Linked DNA regions of Homo sapiens: region 1 is linked to region 2. Evidence: fine-mapped expression QTL. A gene starts in region 2. The other region holds a variant in brackets. All regions are shown on one strand. Distances are between the middles of the regions. Region 1 holds the start of C1orf167 (chromosome 1 open reading frame 167). Region 2 holds the start of AGTRAP (angiotensin II receptor associated protein).

What was found. PIP is the estimated chance that this variant, and not a neighbour inherited with it, causes the effect.
Region 1: its variant is fine-mapped to the expression of AGTRAP in whole blood (INTERVAL, PIP above 0.99).

What each region holds. Positions count from the first base shown.
Region 1 is chr1:11,754,168-11,764,845 of GRCh38, reverse strand. It overlaps C1orf167 (chromosome 1 open reading frame 167), which reads right to left and starts at 2,653. Exons shown (of 21, transcript NM_001010881.2): 1 at 2,541-2,653; 2 at 376-515. The coding sequence starts at 445. It also overlaps the pseudogene LOC101060126. The variant TC/C (reference allele first, on the strand shown) is at 7,342.
Region 2 is chr1:11,727,174-11,744,230 of GRCh38, reverse strand. AGTRAP (angiotensin II receptor associated protein) reads right to left here and starts at 8,095. Exons shown (of 5, transcript NM_020350.5): 1 at 7,996-8,095. The coding sequence starts at 8,022. RefSeq lists enhancers at 12,050-12,139, 17,032-17,057.

The sequences.
Region 1 (10,678 bases), 24 kb before region 2:
TGACCACAGGTGATCCACCCACCTTGGCCTCTCAAAGTTCTGGGATTACAAGCGTGAGCCACCACGCCCGGCCCTCTGTGGCTTTCTTAAAGCCTCAGCAGCCTGAGAAGGGATGTCCCCAGGACCGAGCTGTGGGGGCCCCATCTTAGCCAGGGGCACCAGCCAGGCCTCTTCCTGACCTCACTCTCCCAAGACCCCCCTCCTTAGGCCCCAGGCTGGGAAGACTCTGTCCTATGTCCAGCCGACCGTGGGTGGCTGATCTCTGGAATTAGCCAGGCCCTATAGGCTGGCCTGCCTGGGAGGGGGGCTCTGGGCCAATACCTAGAGAGGGCCCTGCTCCTGTAACTGCCCATCCAGGCCCACTAAGCCTCTTGCCTGGCTTCGGGAGCGCTGCAGGCTTTGGGGACACATTCTCCTTGTGGCTGGCATCAGACCTTAGCTCCATGGGCTCAGGGACAGGAGTATCCTTGGTCCACTCCACAGTGAGTGGCCTGGTCTGTTTAATCAGATGGGCCCTGCGGGGAGAGGACAGGTTGCCCTGGCTCTCATTCAACCCCACCCCATTCTGATCCCTACCTCCTCCCTTTAGCAGTACTCCTAGCTGCTCTTGGCCTGGTCCCAGCTGCCTGGGGCCTGCCCCTCACTGTTCTGGTCTCTCAGTGGCTCCTCTCCCTGCCCTACTTATCACCCCCCTTTCCATATTAAGTGTCCAGGTCAAATGCTGCCCCATCCTGCCCCCCAGACCTCTCGGCTGATCTGCATACAGGTCTGAACATGCAGGTCCAGCGACCTCCTCCACGCCTACCCGGATGTCTAACAGGCATCTCAGCATTAATATGTCCAAAACTGAACTCCAGCCGTCCTCGCAACCAGCTCTCTCCCATCTTGGTGCCCCCCTTTTCCACGGATGGCAGCTCCGGCCTTCTGGTGGCTCAAACAAAAATCCTGGAGCCACCCCGATTCCCCTTCTCCCTCACACCAGTGGCTGCTCTGACAGGCTCTGCCTCCCACACGCATCCAGGATCTGACCCCTGGAGCACTGGGCGGAGTGGCCCTCACCTGCCACCTCCCAACTGGTCACCCTTATTCTGCCTCGTCCTCACGCCCGACAGCCTCCTCTTCATGCGGCGGCAGGGTGATCCTGTAAACACTGAAATCAAATCATGCCCTGCCTCAACTCTAATGCCACAGAAGCTCTCCAGCCCCCTCAATGCCCCGTGAGCCTTCAAGGCTGTAGGCCAGAGGTTAGCAAATTACTGCCTGGGCCAGTGGTCTATTATGTGAATAAAGTTATATTGAAACAAAGCCCATTTGTTTACAGACTGTCTGCTTTCCAGCTGCAATAGCAGAGCTCAATAGCTGCAAGATACCTTAGGCTGCAAAACCTTTTTTTTTTTTTTTTTGAGCCGGAGTCTCACTTTGCCACCCAGGCTGGTACAATGGCGTGATCCCGGCTCACTGCAACCTCCGCCTGCCTCCCTGGGCTCAAGGGATCCTCCCACCTCAGCCTCTAACAAGCTGGAACCACAGGCACATGCCACCACGCCAGACTAATTTTTCTATTTTTTGGTAGAGACAGGGTTTCACCATGATGGCCAGGATGGTCTCGAACTCCTGACCTCAGGTGATTGGCCCGCCTCGGCCTCCCAAAGTGCTGGGATTACAGGCGTGAGCCACCACACCCAGCCCCGCAAAGTCTTTAAAATCTGGCTGCCAGTTATGGTCCTCCCCAATTCCTCTTCCCCTTGCCCACTGTCCTCCACACACACCAGCCCCCTGGCTGCTCCTCCAAATGGCACACACGACCTCACCTCAGCGCCTCTGTGCTGCTGTCCCCTCTGCCTTCAAGTCTTGCCTCCCACATCACAGTGAGCCCTCCCTGCCCACTGTCTCTCCAACTGCAGCAACCTGGCCTCTCCTCACTCTCTTTGCCCTGCACTTGCGGCCACCTAACATAGTGAAGAAATTAGTGTATTTCTCCCTCCAGTGGCCTAGGAGCCACACGAGGGCAGGCTGGTTTTTTTTGTTTGTTTGTTTCCCTGCTGGATTTGCAGCCCATAGAACAATGCCTGACCCCCAGCAGGGGCTTGTAAATGCACATTGAATAAATGACAACCGTGCTAGGCACCTTGCAGCCTTCAGCAGGCGTCCTGCCATTTAATCTGCACTGCAGCCCTGGGACTTAGGTTCCCTGTTTTAGAAATGAGGACAGGAGCTTAGAAGGGCCTGTCCCACCCAAGGCCTCAGAGGGAGCACCCCAGGGCTGGCTCCACAGCGCAGACTCCTAACCAAGAACACCCCACCATCCCCTCTTGCCCAAGTTGACTTGAGGCCGCTCAATCCACAGGAGACCTTCCTGCACCCCTGCCCCTCACGCCGGAGCTCTTCGGTCCATTTCTCCGCTCCTCGTCCGTCTCCCTCAGACTCCCCCCTCCCACTCCACCCCCACCCCTGTCCACTTAAGGGGGCTCACAGCCTCCCTCCTCTTGCCACCAAAAGAGTCTGAGGTCAGTTTCCTGCCCTCATGGATCTGCCCTCACGTGCGTGGGTCCTCCTCGGGTCCTCCTTCACCCAGTCGGATTTGAATCTAGACGGGGGCTGGGACCGCTAACGATCCCCGCAGGTCGGCAGGTCGCGGGCGGGAGGGGACGTCGGAGAGCAGAGCGTGCTGCCCCGCGCTTGGCCCCGCCCAGCCCTGAGCCGTGGGCGTGGCCACCGACGTCCTGGTACAGGTTTTGCCGGGTCCTCCGCAGGCAAGGCACGTGGTCCCAGGGCAACTTTTGCACGTGCAAGATGAGCGACATTCTCTTGGCCATCAGGTCCCCGGGAACCTCCTCCACCCTCTGCCCCGAATCCTGTGGCAGCATCACTGGGGTCTGGGCTTCCTCCACCAGGCGTGCCTCCTCTTGGCTCCTTCCCGCACCTAGAGCTGCCTCCTGGAGCCCCCGCACATCTGGGATACCCCCAGCCATGTCCCCACCACCTATGCCTCTTGGGGCTGCAGGACATGCCCCCGGCTCCCACTGGTAGGAACCCCAGGGGCAGGACATCCGGGTCATGGACACTCACATCCTCACCCGTTCCCAATAGGTGCGATGTCCCATCCAGGGATGTCTCAGATGCAGCTGGCAAACCATGGCCCTCATGGCTGAGGACACACCCGTGATGGGACCCCAGGATCTGGGGGGCAGCCACCACCCTGATCACCACCTGGAATGCCTCATCCTGGACCTCCTCCAATGAGCATGTCCCCCAAGGGGTCTCGGTCTGGATCTCCCATGGGTCACTCACGTCCTATGCCTCCATGGTATGTGTGGACCTCCTCCACCGATGCTGCCTCATGGATACACTGGCCCTCCCCAACACCCACCCTATGGCTTCCGGGGGGGACTCTCCCTCCACCCAGACCCACTCCGGGGCCTCCAGTTCCCCCTCAAGGCCCACTTTGGGGCCCTCTCCCTCAGTAAATTCACATTCTTCTTCCTCCTGTTATATCTTCCCAATATCTTTTTGATTCCTTGGACCAGAGATGCTGCAGCTCCTTGCAACTAAGGCACAAATCCCTTTCAGCCTTCCCATCTTCCTTTTTAATGCCATTTTTTTCCCCATAGAAGGTATTTCTTTTTCATGTTGGTCCTAAGTATTTTGCAAATGCAAAGGAAAATAAAACTATAACAAATTTCTTGTTAAAAGAAAGAAAGAAAGAAAGGCTAGGCACAGTGGCTCACACCTGTAATCCCAGCACTTTGGGAGGCTGAGGTGGACGGATCACAAGATCAGGAGTTCAAGACCAGCCTGGCCAACATGGTGAAACCCTGTCTCTACTAAAAATACAAAAATTAGCCGGGCATGGTGGCGGGCACCTGTAATCCCAGCTACTCAGGAGGCTGAGGCAGGAGAATCACTTGAACCTGGGAGGCAAGGGTTGCAGAGAGCCAAGATCCTGCCATTGCACTCCAGCCTGAGCAACAGACCAAGACTCTGTCTCAAAAAAAAAAAAAAAAAAAAAAGAAAAAAAGAAAAGAAAAGAAAAGGCTGGATGTGGTGGCTCATGCCTGTAATCCCAGCACTTTGGGAGGCCGAGGCAGCCGGATCACTTGAGGTCAGGAGTTCAAGACCAGCCTGGCCAACATGGCAAAATCCCATCTCTATTAAAAATACAAAAAGTAGCTGGTGTGATGGTGTGCACCTGTAATCCCAGCTATTCAGGAGGCTGAGGCAGGAGAATTGCTTGGACCTGGGAGGTGGAGGTTGCAGTGAGTGGTGATCATGCCACTACCCTCCAGCCTGGGTGACAGAGTGAGATTCTGTTTCAAAAAAGAAAAAAAGAAAGAAAAGAAAAGAAAAAAAAGAAAGAAAAACTCTCCCAGCCTTCAGGCACCTCAGAAACTGGCTGGACTCCACCTTAATACCCAAGCTTTGCCGTGCCGTCAGCCTAGCTCGATCACACTTCCTTCAAGGCTGCAAAGGTCCGTCCACTTTCCACCTCCCAAACCTTTGCCCACATTGTTCCCCACTGTGCCCAGCCATCCCACTCCTTCCTCTGTCCAGACTGTATGTTTTCTCCTTTCTAAGCACCTGCTGGGAGAGGAAAGAGCACTCAGTCAGAAAACCTGTGATGAACTCCTTCTGCTGGCCAGGCGCAGTGGCTCACACCTGCAATCCCAGCACTTGGGCAGGCTGAGGTGGGAGGCTCTCATAAGCCCAGGAATTCAAGACCAGCCTGGGCAACATTGCAAGACCTCATCACTACAAAAAAAAATACAAAAATCATCCGGCTGTGGTGGTGCACACCTGTGGTCCCACCTACTTGGGAGGCTGAGGCAGTAAGATTGCTTGAGCCCAGGAGTTCAAGGCTTCAGTGAGCTACGATCATGTCACTGCACTCCAGCCTGGGCAACAGAGTGAGACCCTGTCTCAAAAAAAAAAAAAATCCTTCTGCTGCTGTGTGATCTTAGGCAAGTCCCTAACCTCTCTAAACCTAAGGTTCCTCATATGTAAAAGGGGGATGGTTAGGCCCGATGCAATGGCTCACGCCTGTAATCCCAGTACTTTGGGAGGCCAAGGTGGGTGGATCACTTGAGGTCAGGAGTTCCAGACCAGCCTGGCCAACATGGCGAAACCCCGTCTCTACTAAAAATATAAAAATTAGCTTGGTAGTGGTGGTGCGTGCCTGTAGTCCCAGCTACTGGGGAGGCTGAGGTAGGAGAATCTCTTGAACCCGGGAGGCAGAGTTTGCAGTGAGCCAAGATTGCGCCACTGCACTCCAGCCTGGGTGACAAGAGTGAAACTGTCTCAAACAAAACGAAACAAAACAAAACAAAACAAAAGTGGTGGGGGTGGTAACACCTCCCTCCCCTACCTCTCTGCCTTGATGTGAGGGTCAGATGTTTAACAAATAAATGCCAAAGAACTTTTTAAATGCTAAAGCAATTCTTGAAGAAGGAGGGGGTGATTACTGCTCCCTTTATAGGTCTGTGTGTCTAATCTTTCCTCCTAAATCTGGTGGATGGAAGCTTTTGTTCTTTAGGTTTATTTATTTTATTTTATTTTATTGTTTGTTTATTTATTTATTTATTTGAGACGGAGTTTCGCTCTTGTTGCCCAGGCTCGAGTGCAATGGTGTGATCTTGGCTCACCGCAACCTCCACCTCCCAGGTTCAAGCGATTCTCCTGCCTCAACCTCCATAGTAGCTGGGATTACAGGCATGTGCCACCACGCCCGGCTAATTTTGTATTTTTAGTAGAGACGGGGTTTCTCCAGTTGGTCAGGCTGGTCTTGAACTCTCGACCTCAGGTGATTCGCCCACCTCGGCCTCCCAAAGTGCTGGGATTACAGGCATGAGCCACTGCGCCCAGCCTATTTATTTTTTGAGAAAGAGTTTCACTCTTGTTGCCCAGGCTGAAGTGCAGTGGTGCAACCTTGGCTCACTGGAACCTCCACTGGAACCTCCACCTCCTGGGTTCAAGTGATTCTCCTGCCTCAGTCTCCCAAGTAGCTGCGATTACAGGTGTGCACCACCATACCCAGCTAATTTTTTTTATTTTTCATAGAGACGGGGTTTCACCATGTTGGCCAGGCTGGTCTTGAACTCCTGACCCCAGGTGATCCACCTGCCTTGGCCTCCCAAAGTGCTGAGATTACAGGCGTGAGCCACCGCACCTGGCCTGTTCTTTAGGTTTTGACTCTCTTTAATCTGTAGTAATATTTTTTGCCTTAAAGTCAAATTTGTGGGATATTAATTTAGCACCACCAGTTCCACTTTGGTCCCTATTTGCCTGGTATAACTTTTTCGTCCTTCTACCTTCAGCCTTCCCATGTCCATAATTTTAGGTTTGTCATTTGTAAACACAATATAGCTGGAATTTTAAAAAATCTGATCTGACAATGTATCTTGAGTTTAATTCTTTACAAATGTATGATTTTGACATATTTATTCTATCTTATTTTTGTGCTTGCTAGTAGCCAGAGTTTTCATATTTCTCCTTTCTTGCATTTTTTTTTTTCTTTTTTGGAGATGGAGTCTCGCTCTGTCGCCCAGGCTGGAGTGCAGTGGCGCCATCTTGGCGCAAGCTCCGCCTCCCGGGTTCACGTCATTCTCCCACCTCAGCCTCCCGAGTAGCTGGGACTACAGGCGCCCGCCACCACACCCGGCTAATTTTTTTTGTATTTTTTAGTAGAGACGGGGTTTCACCGTGTTAGCCAGGATGGTCTCGATCTCCTGACCTCGTGATCCACCTGTCTCGGCCTCCCAAAGTCCTGGGATTACAGGCGTGAGCCACTGCACCTGGCCTCCTTTCTTGCATTTTTAAGAATTGATCAAGGTTTTCTTTTTCTTCAGGTCCCCCCTGCTCCTCACTGGCTTGGAAACTGCACATTTCATATCTATTCTTTCTGTGGTTATCCTACACACACACACACACACACACACACACACACACACACACACACGTATATTTAGAGACAGAGTCTTGCTCTATCCCCCAGGCTGGAGTGCAGTGGTGCGATCTTGGCTCACCGAAACTTCTGCCTCCTGGGTTCAAGCAATTCTCATGCCTCAGCCTCCCTAGTAGCTGGGATTACAGACACCTGCCACCATGCGTCTGTACATAATTTTTGTACTTTTAGTAGAAACCGGGCTTTGCCATGTTGGCCAGTCTGGTCTTGAACTCCTGACCTCAGGAGATCTGCCCACTTCGGTCTCCGAAAGTGCTGGGATTACAGGTGTGAGCCACTGTGCCTGGCTCCAAGATATTTTAATATGTATATTTAACAAAAACTAAAGTTAATTGCCAATATTTAATCTCCTTTTAGGTCAAAATTACTATTTCCTTTGTGCA[TC/C]TCAGATCTTCCTTCTGAGAAAAATTCCATGTGCCATCAAAAGATTCTTCAGATGTTTCTATATCAAAGATCTATGGGTGATAAACTCAACTGTATTTTTCTCAGTATCTTTATTTTACCCTCATCCCTGAAGGATGACCACAGGTGCATAATTTTAGGTTGACAGTTATTTTTCTCACCACTTTGAAGGTATCATTCCACTGTCTTCCGACTTCTATTGTTGCTGTTGAGACATCAGCTGCCAGTAATTGTCAATCTTTTTGAGACAATACCTTTTCTATCTGGCTGCTTTTGGGAGCTTAATTTTTGTCTTTGGTGTTCTGTAGTTTTCATTCATTCATTCATTCTACAACTTTTACAAAGCATTAACTGGGTGCCATGGGTGCCAGCATTGTTCTAGGTGTTGAAGGTATAGAAGTGAATGAACCATGTTCTGTTAGAATGACTGTCATCCAGGCTGGCTGGGTTGCAGTGGTGCCATCACAGCTCACTGCAGTCTCGAACTCCCTGGGCTCAGGTGATCCTCCCACCTCAGCCTCCTGAGTAGCTGGGCCTACAGGCACTACTCCCGGCTAATTTTTGTGTCTTTTGTATTGATGGGGTTTCGGCATGTTGCCCAGGCTGGTCTCCAACTCCTGGGCTCAAGTGATCTACCCACCTTGGCCTCCCAAAGTGCTGGGATTACAGGTGTGAGCCACTGCGCCCGACCTCTTTTTATTTATCCCGTTTGGGAATTGTTTAGCTTCTTGAACCTGAGCTTTGCTGTCTTTCCATTTTGGAAAATATTCTGACATGATTTCTTTGAATGTTGCTTCTCTCTCATCATCTCCTTCAGGAACTCTGGCTATATTTATATTGCTCCTTCTCACTCTATCCTTTGTGTCTTCTTTTTTTCCCCCCCGAGATGGAATCTTGCTCTATCACCCAGGCTGGAGTGCAGTGGTGTGATCTCAGCTCACTGCAACCTCCACCTCCCGGGTTCAAGCAATTCTTCTGCCTCAGCCTCCCGAGTAGCTGGGATTACAGGCATCTGCCACCATGCCCAGCTAATTTCTGTATTTTTAGTAGAGACGGGGTTTCACCATTTTGGCCAGGCTGGTCTCGAACTTCTAACCTCGTGATCTGCTCACCTGGGCCTCCCAAAGTGCTGGGATTACAGGCATGAGCCACCATGCCCAACCTGTGTCTTAACTTCTTTTTTGTATTTTCTGTCTCTTTCTACTGCATTCTGGGTGATTTCTTCAAATCTATCTCCCAGGCTACCATTTCTCTCTTCAGATAAATCTATTCTATGAATTAACCTAGGCATTGAGTTTCTGATTTCAATCATGTGTTTTTCATTTATACTTCTGTTTCATTCTTTTAAAACTCCACTGGCAATCCTGATCTCTGCATTGCCACATTCCAGCTCTGAAATCAAGTCTCCGTGTGCCCTTGTCCAAGGCTGTCCCTTCTGGGCCTGTGTCTAGGAGATTTAGGAACTAGGAGATCAGCTTTCACGTTGTGCTCTGGGGATCCCTGGGTTCCCTGGTACTGATGAGAGGGTACTTGATCAGACCTGCTGCCTCTTATATATTGAATATTTCTTTTAAACAAGGGATTTGAAATAATTTTTTTTTGAGACAGTCTCACTCTGTCGCCCAGGCTGGAGTGCAGTGACGCAGTCTCAGCTCACTGCAACCTCTGCCTCTCATGTTCAAGTGATTCTCCCACCTCAGCCTCCCAAGTAGCTAGGACCACAGGCACGAGCCACCACGCCTGGCTAGTCTTTGTACTTTTAGTAAAGACGTGGTTTCGCCATGTTGACCAGGCTGTTCTCGAACTCCTGACCCCAGGTGATCCTCCCAACTCAGCCTCCCAAAGTGCTGGGATTACAGGCATGAGCCACTGCGCCTGGCCTTGAAATAAAATATTTTTAAAACCACTGGGCTAGGGGAGGTCTAAGTTTCCTTCAAGTTCAAATTTGTGATACTGAATTTTCATCTCAGATATGACAATGTTTTATGACAACCTGTTGACTCTGTAGTTTCTGACTTAGACGTGTGAACAAAAGCACCTGACCACCTGGAGAACTGGGTCCTGAGTTCTGTTGCTAGTGAGGAAAATCTGTTTTACTTCCTGAAAAATTTTCCAATCTTTTGAAAACTTGTAGAAAGCACTCAAGAAATGTTCATAGCATTGAGTCAAAGAGATGAATTGACTTGCCCGAGATCACACAGCTCAAAGCTGATGATGCTGGGATCCATGCCTAGGCAGCCCAGCCCAAAGCCAGGCTCCAGGCCACTGTGCCATGGCCTTCCCCATAGAAGCTGATCAGAGGGACACCAGCCCCAGGCCCACGCACTCCTCTCCATCTCCCCTCCCAGGCACAAGGGCACGACATTACTGTATCCAGACAGCCTCGGAGGCTGGGGCTGGGTCCAAGGCAGGGCCGTAGGGCCCCAAGTACCCCACACTCCTAACACCCATCCTCTCCTCTGTACATTCATCCTGGGACCCTGAACAAGTCCCAGGGGCTGCAGGCCTCAGCTTCCTTGTCTGTCCAATGGGAGAAACATTCTGGTGCCCCTCACCTGGGGACAGGTCTGGCAGCAATGAGGTCAGCCAGGGTGGGAGGCCCCAGGTCACTCCTGCCCTCGACCGGCTGGTACCAGTCACAGGCCACCTGGACTCCTTCCCTCTCTAAATGATTACACAGTCGTACAGATAATGAGATCTAACATTTATTAAACACTGATGTTGCACCATTTTCAGTCCTCACTAATACCCGAGTCAGGCACTATTATTGTCCCCATTTTCAGATGAGGAAGCTGAGGCACAGTGAGGTTAAGAGATAGTGTCTCTTAACACAGCCAGTTACAGAGTGCATAGGGGATTTAAACCAAGGCTCACTGACTCCAGAGCCCGTTTAGAGACACAGTGTGAGAGTTGGCATTTCCAGGCCATTCCGGAGACTCTGAGAACCGGCCTGAGGTGGGGCCCTGTAGGTACTGCAGCTCTGGTCCAGTTCTGGCCAACAGGAGAAGGCAGTGACCTCCTGTGGGGCAATTTCTCTGGCTTCCTCATGTGGAAGGCTCAGCTTTGTGAAAACAAGAAATAGATTTGCAAACTGGACAAGTGTGACTTCAGTCCTGATATGGTTTGGCTGTGTCCCCACCCAAAGCTCACCTTGAATTGTAATAATCCCCATGTGTCAAGACCGGGGCCAGGTAGAGATACTCGAATCATGGGGATGGTTCCCCATACTGTTCTGGTGATGGTGAATAAGTCTCATGAGATCTGATGGCTTTATAAATGGGAGTTCCTCTGCAAGGGCTCTATCTCTTGCCTGCCTCC
Region 2 (17,057 bases):
CCATCACAGCTCACTGCAGCCTCAAACTCCTGGGCTTAAGTGATCCTCCTGCTTCAGCCTCCCCAGTAGCTGGGACTACAGGTGTGTACCACCACGCCCAGCTAATTTTTGTTTTTTTGTAGAGACAAGGTCTCCCTATGTTAACCAGGCTAGTCTCAAATTCCTGGGCTCAAGCAATCTACCCACCTTGGTCTCCCAAAGTGCTGGGATTACAGGCAGGAGCCACTGCACCCAGCTACAATATTTTACCCTTTTTAATGTCCTCTGTGTCCTTAAAATGACAGCCTCCTCTCCTGGAACTGGTCTCTACTCCGGGACATCAACAAGGCCCTGACTGGAAAGCACATAGAAAAAGGGCAGATGGAGGCTGGGCACAGTGGCTCACGCCTGTAATCCCAGAACTTTGGGAGGCTGAGGTGGGCAGATCACCTGAGGTCGGGAGTTCGAGATCAGCCTGACCAGCATGGAGAAACCCCGTTTCTACTAAAAATACAAAATTAGCCGGGCATGGTGGCACATGCCTGTAATCCCAGCCACTCAGAAGGCTGAGGCAGGAGAATCGCTTGAACCCAGGAGGCAGAGGTTGCAGTGGGCCGAGATCGCGCCATTGTACTCCAGCCTGGACAACAAGAACAAACCTCCGCCTCAAAAAAAAAAAAAAGGAAAGAAAGAAAAAGGGCAGATGGGCTGGGCGCGGTGGCTCACCCCTGTAATCCCAGCACTGTGGGAGGCCAAGGCAGGTGGATCACTTGAGGTCAGGAGTTCGAGACCAGCCTGGCTAACATGGCGAAACCCTGTCTCTACTAAAAAGACAAAAATTAGCTGGGCATGGTGGTGGGCACCTGTAATCCCAGCTACTCCGGAAGTTGAGGCACGAAAATTACTTGAACCTGGGAGGCAGAGGTTGCAGTGAGCCCAAAATGGGCCACAGCACTCCAGCTTGGGTGACAGAGTGAGACTCCATCTCAAAAAAAAAAAAAGAAAAGAAAAGACAGATGCCTTGGGAGGGCAGGCAGCTGCAGAAAGAGCTTCCAAAGGGAAGGGACCCAGGCTGAGCACAATGTATGAGCGGGGCTCGGCCAGGCAAAGTGGGGCCAAGCCCCAGGCCCTGCATGGGTGGCGGTGGGCATGGAGATAACTGAGGTCGGGGTGGGGTGGCACAGAGACTTTGGGAGGCCAGGAGCCCCAAATTGGGAGCTTCAACGGGCCTGGTGGTCAATGAGGGCCCTAGAAGTTTACTCAAGGGATTGAGGGGTCAGGCTGGAAGGGAGAGATGCCACATGCCTGGGGCAGAGGCAGTGTCCTGGCGCAGACATGGGCAAGGTTTGCGAAGAAGGCCGGGGTTTCTGGCCTGGGTGGAAGGGCAGAAGGAGCCCTCACCACCTGCAAAAAAGAACTGTGGGCCAGGTCTGGTGGCTCACGCCTGTAATCCCAACACTTTAGGAGGTGGAGGGAGAAGACTGCTTGAGCCCAGGAGTTCGAGAACAACCTGGCTAACAAAGTAAGATCCTATCTCTACAAAAAATCAAAAAATTAGCCAGGTATGGTGGAGTACATCTATAGCCCCAGCTACCTGGGAGGCTGAGGTGGGAGAATCACTTGAGCCAGTGAGGTCAAGTGTACAGTGAGCCAAGATCATGCCACTGCACTACAGCCTGGGGGACAGAGCAAGATCCTGCCAGAAAGAGAAAGTAAGGAAAGAAAGAAAAGAAAGAAAGAGAGAAAGAGAAGGAAGAAAGAAAGAAAAAGAAAGAAAAGGAAGGAAAGAAGGAAGGAAGGAAGGAAGGAACGAAGGAAGGGAAAGAAGGGAAAGAAAGGACAGAAAAGAAAGACAGACAAACTCACTCTGGCAGCAGAGGAAAAAGCATTTCTAGAAGAGTTACTCTTGACCACACACCAACTATGTGCCAGGCCCTATGCCAACCGTCTCACATGACCTTATCTGGACCTCACAGCAGCCTCTGGTACTATTATTCCCATTTCACAGATGAGAAAACCAGACTCAGAGATAAATTATGTTGATCAAGACTCCACAGGTAGCAAGTGGCAAAACTGGAATTAAATTTCAAACTCGCCTCCAAAACCAGTGCACCCAACCTCCCCGCTGGGGGCGCAGGCCTTCAGCTGGGAACTGTTTGGGCTTGTGAGAAAGGTCCACACATGGGGGCAGATGGAATCCAGAGCTGGTGGCTGAGATACTTCACCTTTACCTCCAGGGCCCAGGGCCAGAGTGAACCACAAGGGGCCTGGCTCTGTGGCCCAAAAGAAATTCCTTTCTCAGCTCCAAGAGACTAGGAAAATAATTCTGTAAGGACCGATGCACCCAACTTTAAGATCTCGAGACTCTGACCAGGCTGAGTAGTGTGTTACAGAAGTCTAGCTCTAGAAGGAATCTTCGCCATCACCTCACCTACCTTCGTCTACTATTGAGCGCTTCCTATGTGCTAGGTGCCATTCTAAGTGCTTTCTGTATATAAATGCACTAAATCCTTACAATCCTCTGAGGTCTTATTATCCCCATTTTACAGCTGAGAAAACTGAGGCTCAGAAGGAAGTAACTTGCCCAAGGTCACAGAGCAGGCCAGTGGCAGAGCCAGGACTCAAACCCAGGCTGTGCTGTCCAGCCATTAGGCCTCTCCCCATTACAAAGATGGGGAAACTGAGGCAAGAGAGGTGTAGTCTTCCATGGATTTCAATCCCCAGGGGCTTGAAGTGATAAACGGTGTTAAGTTTCTTAAACATTTAGTGTCACCCAGCATCACTGGCACCTGCTTTTCATTCACCCTGGGGAGTCAGAGGTGTGCAGAGCAGATTCGGAGCTGCGCTCTCAGTACTGACCTCGCTAACCAGGTACTCTGCCCTAGGAATGGAGGTGCAGTGAACCCTCATCCCGAAGGAAAGCACCTGATTGAAGGAAAGCATCCTGAAGGAAAGCAAGGGAAAGGGCACCTGATTGAACAGCAGGGAGGCTGGGAGGGTTGGGGTGGTCAGGGGCTTCTCTGAGGAAGGGATGGGGGAGGCTGAGGGGGAAGAAGAGCATTTTGAGCAGGAGGGGCGGCACTCACAAAGGCTCTGTGGCAGAAGGGGGGCGTGGAACTTTCTGGAAACTGAACAGAAGCCAGTGTGGCTGGAGTGGAAGGTGAGGGGAGTGGAGGAGGGAGGGACAGGAAGTTGGGGGCAGGCAGGGCTGGGCATGAGGACGATTCTGATCTTTATCTTCAGAGCTAACCACTGTCCCCTCCATCTGATAGTAAACCCTGGACCACAGACAGGAAGGAACTTGCTCAGGGCCACACCGCAGAGTCAGCCACAGTGGTCCCAACATCCAGCTTTTAAAGAAGACACCGAGGAAAGAGACAGAGGGAAGGTAGCTCCCATCACCCCTTTCCTCCCCAAAATCGACACCTAACTCTTCCCACTCTGGGCTTGTTTTGGAAATGATCTTCATTTTCAATGCTCTCGCTCCTATGCCTAGACTGTACACAGAGTAGGTCTTTAATAAATGGGCCCTGCAGAGCCCTGGATTATTCCGGAAAGAATGGCAGTTAGCATGAAAGGCTGAGTCCCAGGGGGGCCTCTGATCCGCAGGATACCCTAAGGGTCATGCTTACAACCTATGAGGTAAAGGCTTTTCCTAGCGCTGGAAGGGCCTGTAATACAGAGTGAGCACCCAGCTGGGCCCACACCTCTGCCATCTCTGTTAGGGAAGAAAACAACGTAACCTGGAAATACTGCAGATCCTTAGCACACACACAGTCTCCTCTGCGTGACGTCACTTTGGTTTGATAAATATGAACAAAGTTAGCACCAGTTGCTCCTCTTAAGCCCCTGGGAAAAGAAACGTCCAGAAGCCTAAGCCTCCCCTGCCTCAGTTTCTTCATCTGTGTAACAGGAGGACACCCAGAGAGGCCTTAATGTGCAGGAAGACTCCAGGGAGAAACTGAGCCAAACGGGCCCTGCACTTCCTGGCAGCCCAGGGAAAGAGGGGCCAGTAACTGTCAGGACAAAACCACTGTCTTTTGGCCCTGGGGGAGCTTCCTGGTAGCCAAAGAGACACAGGATTCTCAGGTATGGCCTGAAAGAGGAGCTGGAAGCAGGGAAGGAACCTGAGCTAAACGGGTGGCAGGGCCAGGACCTTTCCCAGCTGGGCAGGAAGGACGGACCTGAGCCCCTGGACTCTCACTACAGTGCTCAGCCCAGGGGAGGCCGCCCAGCTCTTTCCCAGACAGGGGTCAATGGACCAAGGCAGCAGAGGGTCCCAGGATGCTATGCTGGAACAGGAAACCTGGGTGCTGGTCCAGGCGCCAAGGCCTCAGGCTCCTTTCTGCGAAACGGAGGCAGTACCCATTTGTCCCACGGGGGTGCCTCAACTGCCAGAGACAAGCATCTATCTGGACGGTCACTGTAAGTATCCGTTTACTAACTGTTAAATACCTATGTGGGGCAGGGATCCTGCATCATCAACGACAGCAGCAACTCCTGCTACTGACAAGCACCAGCCTGCCATGCATCTACACTGCACTGCCCCTAACTCATGTCATCCGTGTAACTGTATGGGGTAGAACTGAGGCTCTGAGAGATTAAGTAAATTGGCCCAATTCATAAAGCTTACAAACAACAGAGCCCAGACACAAATGTCAGAATCAATCTATCCAGCCAGAGTTTTTGTTTGTTTTTTTGAGACAGAGTCTTGCTCTGTCGCCCAGGCTGGAGTGCAGTGGTGCGATCTCGGCTCACTGCAACCTCTGCCTCCCGTGTTCAAGTGATCCTCGGTGCCTCAACCTCCTGAATAGCTGGGACTACAGGCGAGCACCACCACACCCAGCTAATTTTTGTATTTTTAGTAGAGGTGGGGTTACATCATGTTGGCCAGGCTGGTCTCGAACTCCTGACCTCAAATGATCCACCTGCCTGGGTCTCCCAAAGTGCTAGGATTACAGGTGTGAGCCACCACGCCTGGCCCAGCCTGAATTTGTAACCCTAATTCTAGACTACGTCCTGGACCATGGATCCATCATCCTAGGAGGTAGGGACTGTATTTAACTTCTTTTTACAATGAAGAAATAGATACTGAGAGAGTTCAGAAACCTACTCAAGGTCACACAGAAACCTACTCAAGACCTTGAATGCAGACCTGCCTGCCCCCAAAGCCTGTGCTCTGTCCACTGTGCTACACCGTCAGGATCTCGAAGAGCCGTAGAGGGCAGATGGAAATGAGGAAGTCTAACCTGGAGAAGGAAAGGCTGAAGAGAAACCAGCAGGGCATGCAGACCAAGACTTAAACCCTTTGTTTGCCACTAGAGGACCCATGGCGGGGTAGGACTTCCCAGAAATGGAATAAACTCCTACCAGTCCTGTGCAAACACTTGGTGGCCTGTTACACGTGCTAGTGAGATCCCCCAGGGTGGCCGGGGCCCAGGGACACCAGTCAGGGCTGCCAAGGATGGGAGGCAGAGTTGTGCAGCGGTTAACTTCGTGGGTACTGGAGGCAAACAGGTGGATCTGATCCTGGCTCCATGACTTTAGAACCTAGTGACCTTAGGCAAGTCACCTGACCTCTCAGAACAGCTGTTGGCTCTTCTGCAAAGAAGGGCAATACTGCCTGATTCAGTGTTGTTGTGTGGATCCAGTGGTACAGGGAGGTGGAGAGGTGTGGGAAGCGCTCCACACAGTGCCTGTGAGGAATTCAGCCCTCCATCCCAGCAGTCCTCATTACTGAGTTTTTAACCCAAATGCTACACGACTACCTCCTAGACCACCAGATCCTCCTCCCAAGGTCTTCTTCCCACAAGACCTCTGTACCCTAGTCCAGTCCTTTCTAAGCTCATCACAATGTCATTCTTGCAGCTCAGGACCTGGCTTCAAGAGACATGGACAGGGCTTGGTCAGGAGCTGCCCTTTGTGCAAAGGGCCTGGGGCAGTTGTTTCTTCTCACCTGGCACCACTGCCCACTCTGGCTGAGCTGGGCAGAAGCAGGCACTCAGCCCTTGCCCAAGGAATATACAAAACGAGGGAGTGGGGAGGGAGTGCAGGCCACAGGGAGCAGTTCCCCACCTCCTGAAGGGCTCTGAACTCAGAACATCCCCTAAGTGCCTATAAGCAAGGAGTCAACAGCTGCCCTCCACAGGGTGGCCAGATCCAGCAAACAAAAATACAGAACACCCAGTTAATTTCCAATATCAGATCATGAATAATTTGTTAATATGTCCCACATATTGCCTGAGACTTACTCATACTAAAAAACTGTTCGTTGTTGATCTGAAATTCAAATTCACCTGGATCTCCTGTACACGACCTGACAACCCTGACCCCTCAGGGCCTTCCAGCACTTTGTTGTCTCTGACTGGTAGCGGCTAACACCCTTGGAGACTGGGGTCTCGTTTGCCAAGTCAAGGGGAGGACCAGCCTTTTCATCCTGGGTACCGAAAGCCAGCATAGCTCATACCTGTGGATGCTCTTAGCCTGTCAGGCCCAAAAAGTTGCTCAAAAAAAGCCCCAAAGAGACTAAGCCCTCCCAAAGGACAGAAACAGCCAACGTTAAAGTCAGCCCTAAGCTGGTACCCCAGAAAGGACCTGGCCCTGGAGTCTGATCCCTATGGGTTCAAATCCTGATATTGCCACTTACTCCCCGTGGGACCTTGGCAATTTACCCAGTCTAAGCTGAAGTTTGCTCATCTGTAAAAAGATGACCATATCAGCTTTCTCATAAGGCTGCCTTGATTAAATAACCTGGCACACCACAGAAGCCCATAAATTAGAGCTCTGTCCCTCCCACTGCCCTCACCTGATCCTCTGTCAGCAATTATTTTAAGCAAATCCCTCATCAGAGAAAAGGCAGTTGGTGTTAACCCCACATTGCCTGGAATAGAGTGCATATTGATACCAACAAGCCTCGGCTGCTGTCACGTAAATTTCTTCCCAGCTGAACGTTCCATCCAAGCCCATTCCCTTGCTCCAGCCATGTCTCCCCACCACCTTTGACTGGAAGCTTCAGGAAGGTTTGCTGAAGCAAGTATGATTAAGAAGGGAAACATGCCTATAGCAAGTCATAGCACAGATGTTGTGTAATAATAAAGTGTATTAAGCCATTGTTTTGTAACCATCTATTTCTCAGGTTCCTTTAGTCCCAGACACCAACAGGGAGCTAAATGCTCTGTCATTCATGAGTAAGAGGACATTCCTGGATATTGCCTCAAAGGAGGCTGCACTAAGACCCAAAATGGCCGGTTTGGTCCAAGGTCCACACCTTCCTGACCAAAACTACAGCCCCTAGCCCCTCTAATGCAAATGGAGCCCAGACACGTGGGCGGCGGGGCTGGGCGGGGAGAAAAAGAACAGCCGCTGGCACCCAGACCCGGACTGAGCTCACGGCTCGGGAAATGAAGACACCACAGGAAGCCCTGCAGTGTTTTCCCCAGTGCACAAAGTTGGGGTTTTCTGCTTTTAAGTAATTTCTGTTGGAGTTCGCGCTTCTTGATTATGAAATAAGGGCGCTGGATGTGTAAACTTTATAAAACCAACTGCTTGGGAACATCTGATTTCCTTAACCCGACTTAGCAAACAAGGAGGCTCCTGAAACGGTGCTGGGACCCGGGGGGCAAGCCCAGTCCCTGACCCCGCGCGGGGGAGGTGAGCCGCCTACAAGCCCCTCCCGCGCACCTTCCTCCTCCTCCAGGGGAATTCTGGGCGTGCAGGCAACAGCAATGCTGGGACCGGCGCTGCCCGCTGGGAGGGTCTGAGTCCGGGAGGGGGCGGCCCTTGCCCTCCGCTGCCACCTCCCACGGCCCCTCAGTGTCGCCCTGCTGGCCTGTGCCTGGATCACTCTCCCTGCTGTGGCCTGCCTGCCCATCTCCTTCTTGCGTGGGGTCTGTACCTTCCCTTCCTCCCTACCATCCCTCTTTCCCCAAAACTCCGGTCCTTCCTCCCACCTTCCGGGAAAATGCAAATGTCCCACTTCCTCCCGCAAAGGGGACCCTCCCCCCAGCCCGTCGCCACCTTCAGGTTCACAGCAGGCAGCTCCATCCCGACTCAGGCCGAGGGCACCTGCGCCGCAGCCGCGGGGGGCTCCTAGGCTCCGAACTCGGGGAACAAACTTGCCCGGCCCCGCCCCGCCCCGCCCGTTGCGGCCACTCCAACCCCAGCGCAGCTCAAGACCACGTGAAACGGGCTGGAGCGGGTCACGTGACCGCCGCTTGGTTGCTAGGAGACGGCGTCGGCAGCTCGCGCCTTCAGCCAAGCTCCAGACTCCCGCCACCGCCCAGGCAGTACTTGGGGGCCGCTGGCGAAAGTTGGAGTTTCTGTCGCCCAGGGCGTATCCTGCCTGGCTAATATTCCAGGAAGCGGACTGTTCGGACTGCCTGCAGCCAGGACAACTGGGGGACCGTCCAGGCGCAAAGTGCTGATGTGGCAACAGCTTGTGTCTCATCCTTGGGGGCACCCTCTCTCCTTCCCACTTCCCTGTGTAAATGGGCTATTTAGGCTACCTACCTCATATGATCCTTATGAGGATTAAATGAGCTAACTGCTGTTGTTAAAGAAAACGTTATTGGGACTGTTGTTAAACCAGTACTGTTCAAGACTTGCTGTAGGGTTATTGCCATGGAGTGAGAGTTTGGGCTCAACACCGAATACAACAAGGACCAAGGAGGGATTTATAGCCAGAGCAGAATGAGGGAGCAGGAATGGAAGATTCCTAGGAGGAGACATCAAGGATGGGGGAGTTCTTGCTAACTTAGCAGGACTCTTGCTGAAACTGGTTTATTATGCAGGCTCAGGCCCAGCAAGGACAGGAAGACACAGAGGTCCAAGGCCGAGGCCTAGTCAAGATGAGGACTCAGAGGAGTCTAACTACGGTTTGTTCTAGGAGAGAACAGTGCCCGGCACTTAGTAAATGGGCAGGACACACAAGCTATTGTTATTACCAACACAAGATGAGGCTGGGCGCAGTGGCTCACCCCTGTTATCCCAGCACTTTGGGAGGCCAAGGAGGGTGGATCACCTGAACTCAGTAGTTCGAGACCAGCCTGGCCAACATGGTGAAACCCCGTCTCTACTAAAAATACCAAAATTAGCAGGGCATGGTGGTGTGCACCTGCAGTCCCAGCTACTCAGGAGGCTGAGGCACGAGAATTGCTTGAACCGGGGAGGCTGCAGTGAGCCGAGATCACGCCACTACACTCCAGCCTGGACGACAGGGTGAGACCTTGTCTGGGAAAAACAAACAAACAAAAAGCAACACCTGAGGAGCCAAATTGGTGGGAGCCCACTTTAATCAGCATACCAAAAGTTTTAGAAAACTCTAGCTGAAAAACCATAAGAAATTCCTCCCCCAATTGTACATGAGGAAAGAAAGGGCTGTCTCCTGCCTCACCTGGCACCTCCCTTAAAGATTGTTGACCACCACATCCCCCCACCGCAACAAGAACATTAATCCGCTCTACCTCCAGGTCCCTTCCTAACATCAACTTTCCTTTAGAGAACACCAGCTTTTGTTTAGTGTCACCTAGGTATGGAAACCTTCAGGGTACACCTGAGCACTTGGTCTTATTCCTAGGGTGGGGGAAACCAGGTGGGAACCTACAAAACTGCCTGGGTGAGTCCTTAGATAATACCAAGACCCATAGTCTCTCCAGATGCAAAGAAAGGGTTTCTCTGGATGGATGAGGAGAGTTTTGCAGGGCTGCAGGGCCCATAGGCCTAACTTAATGCCCTCTTAGGAGGCACAGATCCCCCCAGTCTAGGGGTAAATTAGAGACCAGCCAAATGGCTACATCCAGTTTGATTTAGGACTGGTTGCTATTATTATTATTAGTTCATTATTGGTAATTAATTATTGTTATTAGTAAAGTACTTAGAAGAGAGTAATTTCTCAGTAAGCAGTCAATATTAGAATATTATGTTATTATTATCTTTTTTTTTTTTGAGATGGAGTCTGGCTCTGTCACCCAGGCTGGAGTGCAGTGGCGCGATCTCAGCTCACTGCAACCTCCGTCTCCCGGGTTTAAGTGATTCTCCTGCCTCAGCCTCCTGAGTGGCTGAGACTACAGGTGGGTGCCAACATGCCCGGCTGATTTTTGTATTTTTAGTAGCGATAGGGTTTTGCCACGTTGGCCAGGCTGGTCTCAAACTCCTGACCTCAGGTGATCTGCCCGCCTCGGCCTCCCAAAGTGCTGGGATTTCAGGCGTGAGCCACAGTGCGCAGCCTGATCAATTTCCTTCTAAAAAATATTTCCCATACACTCCAGATTCTAGAGGGATTTAATCCAAGCCTTTAGGTATATAATAAAGTTGTGATCACTTTGTAAGGAGAAAATGAAAAACAGGCCGGGCACGGTGGCTCAAGCCTGTAATCCTAACACTTTGGGAGGCTGAGGCCGGTGGATCACTTGAGGTCAGGAGTTCGAGATCATTTTGGCCAACATGATGAAACCCCGTCTCTACTAAAAATACAAAAATTAGCCAGGCATGGGGGTGTGCACCTGTGGTCCCAGCTACTTGGGAGGCTGAGGCAGGAGAATTGCTTGAACCTGGGAGGTGGAGGTTGGAGTGAGCCGAGATCCTGCCACTGCACTCTAGCCTGGGCAACAGAGTGAGATTCCATGTCAAAAAAAAAACAAAAAAACCGCAAAACAACTCCTAGGATTAGAGCTGACATTTACTAAACTGACATTTACAGGACCCTGTAGGGGCGGAAGGGTGTGATACCTTTCCTCACCCATCATAAAGGTCACAGCTGACACTCCTGTAAAAAAAGACTGCTTAACAAGAGAAAAGCATACCAAGTTTAGTTAAGCAAAGCTTCATGTGACATGGGAGGCTTCAGAGATGAAGACTCAAAGGCCCTGGGAAATCTGTCCATTTTTGTGCTTAGTTTCAAGGAAGAATGAACAGCCCTGTAGCAATGCAATTGGATAAAAAGAAAATGAACAAGTCTTGTCCAGATTCTTCTTGGGCTCTCCATGCAGCATTCCTTCCTCCTGGGTATGAGGTAGAACCCCTCTGTAATGAGGTCTTTAAAGAGAGAAGGGAGAGAGCCACCTTTCTAGGTTTTATGGCTACTTTGGAGACACGGGTTCTAGTTTCTGTGACCCACCTTGGAGAAGGAGGATTTTTTTTTTTTTTTTTCTTGAGACAAGGTCTTGCTCTGTTACCCAGGCTGGAGTGCAATGGTGTGATCATGGCTCACTGCAGCCTCAACCTCCTGGGCTCAGGTGATCCTCCCACTTCAGCCTCCTGAATAGCTGGGATTAGAAGCACCTACCACCATGACTGGCTAATTTTTGTATTTTTTTTTATAGAGACAGGGCTTGCCATGTTGCCCAGGCCGGTCTCAAACTCCTGGGCTCAAGCGATCCACCTGCCTCGGCCTCCCAAAGTGCTGGGATTACAGACTTGAGTCACCTCATCCCCTGCCAAAGGAGGAATTCTTGTTCTGTGACTGCCTCACGGGAGAAGGAGGGGCTGGAGACAGGAGGTCAGGAGGGCGTCACAGAGACCTTGCTTTTGAGGCCTCCAGTCTTCTGTAGTTCATAGTACTTAGCATGCCAAAGCACCAGATATTGGGGTGACATTTTCTGAGCCCCAACAGTAGTTGTCGTGTGGCAGACAGTGTGAAAGGGCTTCATAGTGGGCCAGGCACGGTGGCTCACATCTATAATCCCAGCACTTTGGGAGGCCAAGGCGGGTGGAACACCCGAGGTCAGGAGTTCGAGAACGGCCTGGCCAACATGGTGAAACCCTGTCTCTATTAAAAATACAAAAATTAGCCGGGCATGATGGCACATGCCTATAATCCCAGCTACTCGGGAGGCTGAGGCATGAGAATCGCTTGAACCCAGGAGGTAGAGATTGCAGTGAGCCGAGATCCTGCCATTGCACTCTAGCCTGAGAGACTGAGAGACGGAGCGAGACCCTGTCTCAAAAAAAAAAAAAAAAAAAAAGAAAGTTCTTCATAGTAAATGCTCACAACAGAACTATGGCACGCGCTGTTCTTATTCCTGTTTACACTTAGGCAACTGAAATCAACAGAAGTGAAGCCGCTTGCTGCAGGCACAGCACTAATTGCTGCTGGAACTGCGGTGGGACCCAGGAAGCCTGGCTCCAGGACCCTGACGTGTAACCACACAGCAGAAAAATCCGGCCAGGGCTGAAATGAGAAGGATAGAGTGAAGCAAGTAGGAGAAGACAAGGATCGGAAGGCAGCACAAGGCTGGGCCTGTGGAACGTCCCTGTGGCTCAGACACTGACACTGTATTCATCTCCACCAGCTGGGGCCAGAGGCGGAGGGAGGAGAGCACGAGAACACCCAGCTGGCTGGGCGGGCTTGGCAGGCTGGTGGGGTTGGGGGGATGCGGGGAGGTGGGAAGCACGGAGAAACAAAAGAAAGTGAAACTGTCGGTATCCTCAAAGGAACCGGAGTTCCTGCCACGACCTATTCTTGGCTATGGAAGGACATAATAGACCCCCACGTGGCATTCCACAAGGCTTGGGGTCATGTATTGAGTGAGTACAGACACTCCCCAACTTACAATGGTCTGACATGATTTGTCTACTTTCCAACAGTGCGAAAGCGATCTGCGTTCAGTAGAAACCATATTTCCAGTCCCCAGTATAACCGTTCTGTTTTTCACTTGCAGTATAGTGTTCAATAAATTCCATAGGGTTTTCAGCACTTTATTATGAAATAGGCTTGTTTTTCATGATTTTGCACAACTGTAGGCTAATGTAAGTGTTCTGAGCATGTTTAAAGTAGGCTAGACTAAGCTATGATGTTCAGTAGGTTAGGTGTATTAAATGCATTTTATTTTCTTTTTTTGAGACAGGGCCCTCTAGGTGCTCTGTCACCCAGACTGGAGTACAGTGGTGCAACCTTGGCTCACTGCAGCCTCCAACTCCTGGGCTCAAGTGATCCTCCCATCTCAGCCTCCCAAGTAGCTGGTATTACAGGCTCACACCACCATGCCCAGCTAATTTTGCTTTTTTTTTTTTTCTTGAGATGAACTCTCACACTGTCGCCCGGGCTAGTGTGCAGTGGGGCGATCTTGGCTCGCTGCAGCCTGCACCTGCCGGGTTCAAGCAATTCTCCTGCCTCAACCTCCCAAGTAGCTGGGACTACAGCCATGTGCCACCACACCCGGCTAATTTTTGTATTTTTAGTAGAGACGGGGTTTTACTGTGTTGGCCAGGCTGGTCTCAAACTCCTGACCTCATGATCCACCTGCCTTGGCCTCCCAAGGTGCTGGGATTACAAGCGTGAGCCACCGTGCCCGGCCAGAGGGGACATTTGTTTCTGTGACTACTTAAAACTAATGAGGGCTGACTCTGAACGATTTGTCCCGATGGCACAGAATTCAATCTTACAGCGGCATCCCTTGCTGACACTTATGGACTCCAGCCAGCCTCCATAAATACTCCTTGAGCTTTAAAACACAGGAAATCATGCCTGATGTTCCGGCTGCTCTGCCACCTCATCAGGGTCCTATGAAAATTACTGCCGGTTAAGAATGATCCCCGCCAGGCCTTCCCAGACATGTGGCAATAGTGCCCTGTCCCTCCAGAGACCCTTGTGCTCAGAGAACCCATCAGAATGCCCTATGGAACCTTTGGTGATTGTAGAAAAGGCAGAAAAGGAAATTGCCTGTGCCCTGTTGGAGTCCAGGAAGCTGTGGCTGTGTTAGAAACCACCCAGAACACAAGCGGAAGTAAGAGGCTATTGCCCAAGAGGAAGGAGAGGCACTTCAGCTACTCTCAAATTCTGACCTATGGTATTTCCTTCAACCCCTGCTGCATACAGCAGCAATCCTCTTATTTTATTGTGTGCGTGTGCACGCACATGTGCAGGTGTGTGTGTGTGTGCATGTGTGTAGGTGTGCATGGGCATGTGCATGGGTGTGCATGTGCGGTGGTGTGTGTGTGTGCATGTGTGTAGGTGTGCATGGGCATGTGCATGGGTGTGCATGTGTGTGGGTGTGGGTGTCTGCATGTGCGGGTGCGTGTGTGTGCGTGTGCATGTATGTGTGGGTGCGTGTGTGTGTGTGCATGTGCATGCTCACGTGCTTTCCTCAACTCTGAGCATCTTGTTCAGAGATCAACTCCAGCCCCTGGCCCAGGCCCTGCACGGAGCGAGTTTCAATGTGTGCTGCTTGCCTCCCGCCTCCCATGGCCTGTCCTGGTTGTGTCATAACTTCAGGCTGCTTCCTCCTCCTCTCTTCGTTCTCCCATTTTTCCACGTGGATGCTGCTGGAATTCCAAGGGAGGCGTTGGAGGGCTCTGGCTGAATCTGAGTGATGGCTCAGATACACACATGAGGCCTGTTGTGGTCACTGAGCCCGACGGCCCGAGACGCCTATCTGCCATGGGGTTTATCTTTGGTGTTTGCTTTCACTGCTTTCAGGCCTCACTGGCGGTGGCTTTCACGTCTGACTCTGCTGCAGGCTCTTCGAGGTCTCATCTTCCTTGCAGGGGGCCAGTGGCCACAGGGAGAGAGAAGAGAAGAACGAGGAAGTGGGTGGGGGAGGGGAGGGTGCTTCCACTGGCTCTCTGGAAGGAATCCAGCCCTCTTCCTCTCTGGGAAGCCGGCCTGAAGGTGAATCCAACTTCGGTCCTGGCAGCCCCCTGCCTGACAGCGGCCTCGATGGGTCCTAAATGAGTGGCACAGTGCCTGTGAGGTGGGAGTAGGGGTGAGATCAGTGATCAGCTCCTAGTAGGTGCTCAGTAAACTTCAGGTATTTGAGAGGCAACACGGGGTCATGGACATGATCAGGTTTTGGAGTCAGGCAGACCTGGGGGAGGCCTCTCCAGCACCACTTTGGGCAAGTGGCCTTAATTCCTTTGTGCTTCCATTTTCATGCTTGGCAAAAGAAGGTCTAACAGTTCCCAGTTACGCAAGAGGAGGGGCGCCTCACGCCGTCAATGGAGGCCAGGGCTGTGTCTGGAGGAAGGTGTTCCCTCTGTACACAGGTATTCTGCTCTGTGCCAGGCGCTGACACAGGTCAAGGTCGGGATGCACAGTGCCAGTTCAAGACCACAGCATATAGCGCCGTCCAATTGTGCCCTTGCCGCAGTGCCTAATCGCCAGCAGGGACAGAGCCCAGGCTCCTGACTGTGGTTCCCCAGTGCAAACGTGTGAGTTTCAGGATATGCCATCGTGTGTTGGGGGAGGTGTGATGAAGGGACAGGGGCAGCTCTGTTTTGTCATTTGCTGACCCAGTCAGGCATCCATTCATATCGCTCCTCACCCGATCCCTCCCCACCCCATCCCACCCCAAATTGCAATTTCATGTCCTAACACTGGGTAGACACTGGTCTGGGCCCACCACAGCATGTGTGTCCATGTTCATGACCAGGGTTGGCCACCGCTACACTGAGGCTCAAGCTGCCAAACAGAGTGAGGAAGCCCAGAGCTTCATGACCCGCCACGGTCAACTCTGTCGCACGTCCAGTCACCGGGATCTGAGCTGGGGAGCTGAGCTCCAGAAAGCTCCATGATGGTCAATTTCGTGTGTCAGCTTGGGCAAGTTCTAGTATCCAAGGTTTCAGTCAAAAAAGAATGTAGGTGTGTGTGAGGGCATCTGCAGTCAGTTGGCTTGAAGGAAAGGAGGGTACCCCTGAGAATGTGGTGGGCCTCATCCTATCAGTTGAAGGCCTTAAGAACAAAAACTGAGGTCTTGGGAGAAGAAATTCAGCCTCAAGACTGCAGCATTAACTCCTGCCTGAGTTTCTGGCTTGCCTGCCTGTCCTACTAATTACAGACTTGCCAGCCCCTACAATCATGGGAGCCAATTCCATAAAATAAATCTCTTTATATACAGTCATGCATTGCTTAACAGCAGGAATACATTCTGAGAAATGTGTCATTAGACAATTTCATTGATGGGCAAACATCATAGCATTACACACTGCAAACATCATAGTGTGTACTCACACAAACCTAGATGGTGAAGCCTCCCACACACCTAGGCTCTCTGAGATAGCCTGTTGCTCCTGGGCCACAGACTTGCACAGTATGTTACTGTACTGAATACTGCAGACAACTGTGACACAATGATGAGTATTTGTGTATCTAAACATATCTAGACATAGAAAAGGTACAGTAAAAGTATGGTATTAGAATCTTATGGCATGGTGGCTCATTACAGGCATGGTGGCTCATGCCTGTAATCCCAGCACTTTGGGAGACTGAGGCAGAGGATCACTGAGGCCAGGAGTTTGAGACCAGCCTGGGCAACATAGCGAGACCCCGTCTCTACAAAAAATACAATAATTAACCAGGCTAATTACTGTATTTATAATACAATAATTATTATTGCATTAATAATACAAAACTTCGGAGGCCGAGGCAGGAGGATCATTTGAGCCCAGGAGTTTGAGGCTGCAATGAACCATGATTGTGCCACTAGACATAGTGTCATGACTGTGCGCAACCTAGACGTAAAGCCAGATTCTGTCTCAAAAACAAAACAAAACAATCTTATGAGACCACTGTTGTATGTGTGGTCTGTCATTGACTGAAATGTTTATATGGTACATGACTGTGTGTATACACACACACACACACACACACATGAGATATATAAATACATAGATATTTTAAGATATATAAATAATATCCAATTGTTTCTGTTTCTCTGGAGAACCCTGACTGATCCACCCCAGTGCAGCCATCTGCCCTCCACCAAGGGCTGCACCCAGGCTGCTGGCACTGAGAGCTGACATCCTGTGGCCTTGGGCTTGACTGCCCTAACCCCTTATCTCAGCACTGTTCTGACCTTTATTAGTAGAAATGGGATCCAGTGGACATCCCAGGACAGAGGGGTTTGGCTTTTAGATGGCCAGCATGCCTTTCTGTAACCTTTGACCCAGGGGTCAGTAGTACAGACTGGGGTCAGCAAGCTACAGCTCCTGGACCAAATCTGGCCCGCTACCCTTTTGTGTAAATAAAGTTTTATTGGAACGCTGCTGTGCTCACTCATTTGCATGCATCTGTTTCTGTGTGATCCATGGCTGCTTTCATACGACGATGGCAGAGTTGAGTAGTGGGCAGAGAGGGTATGACTTGC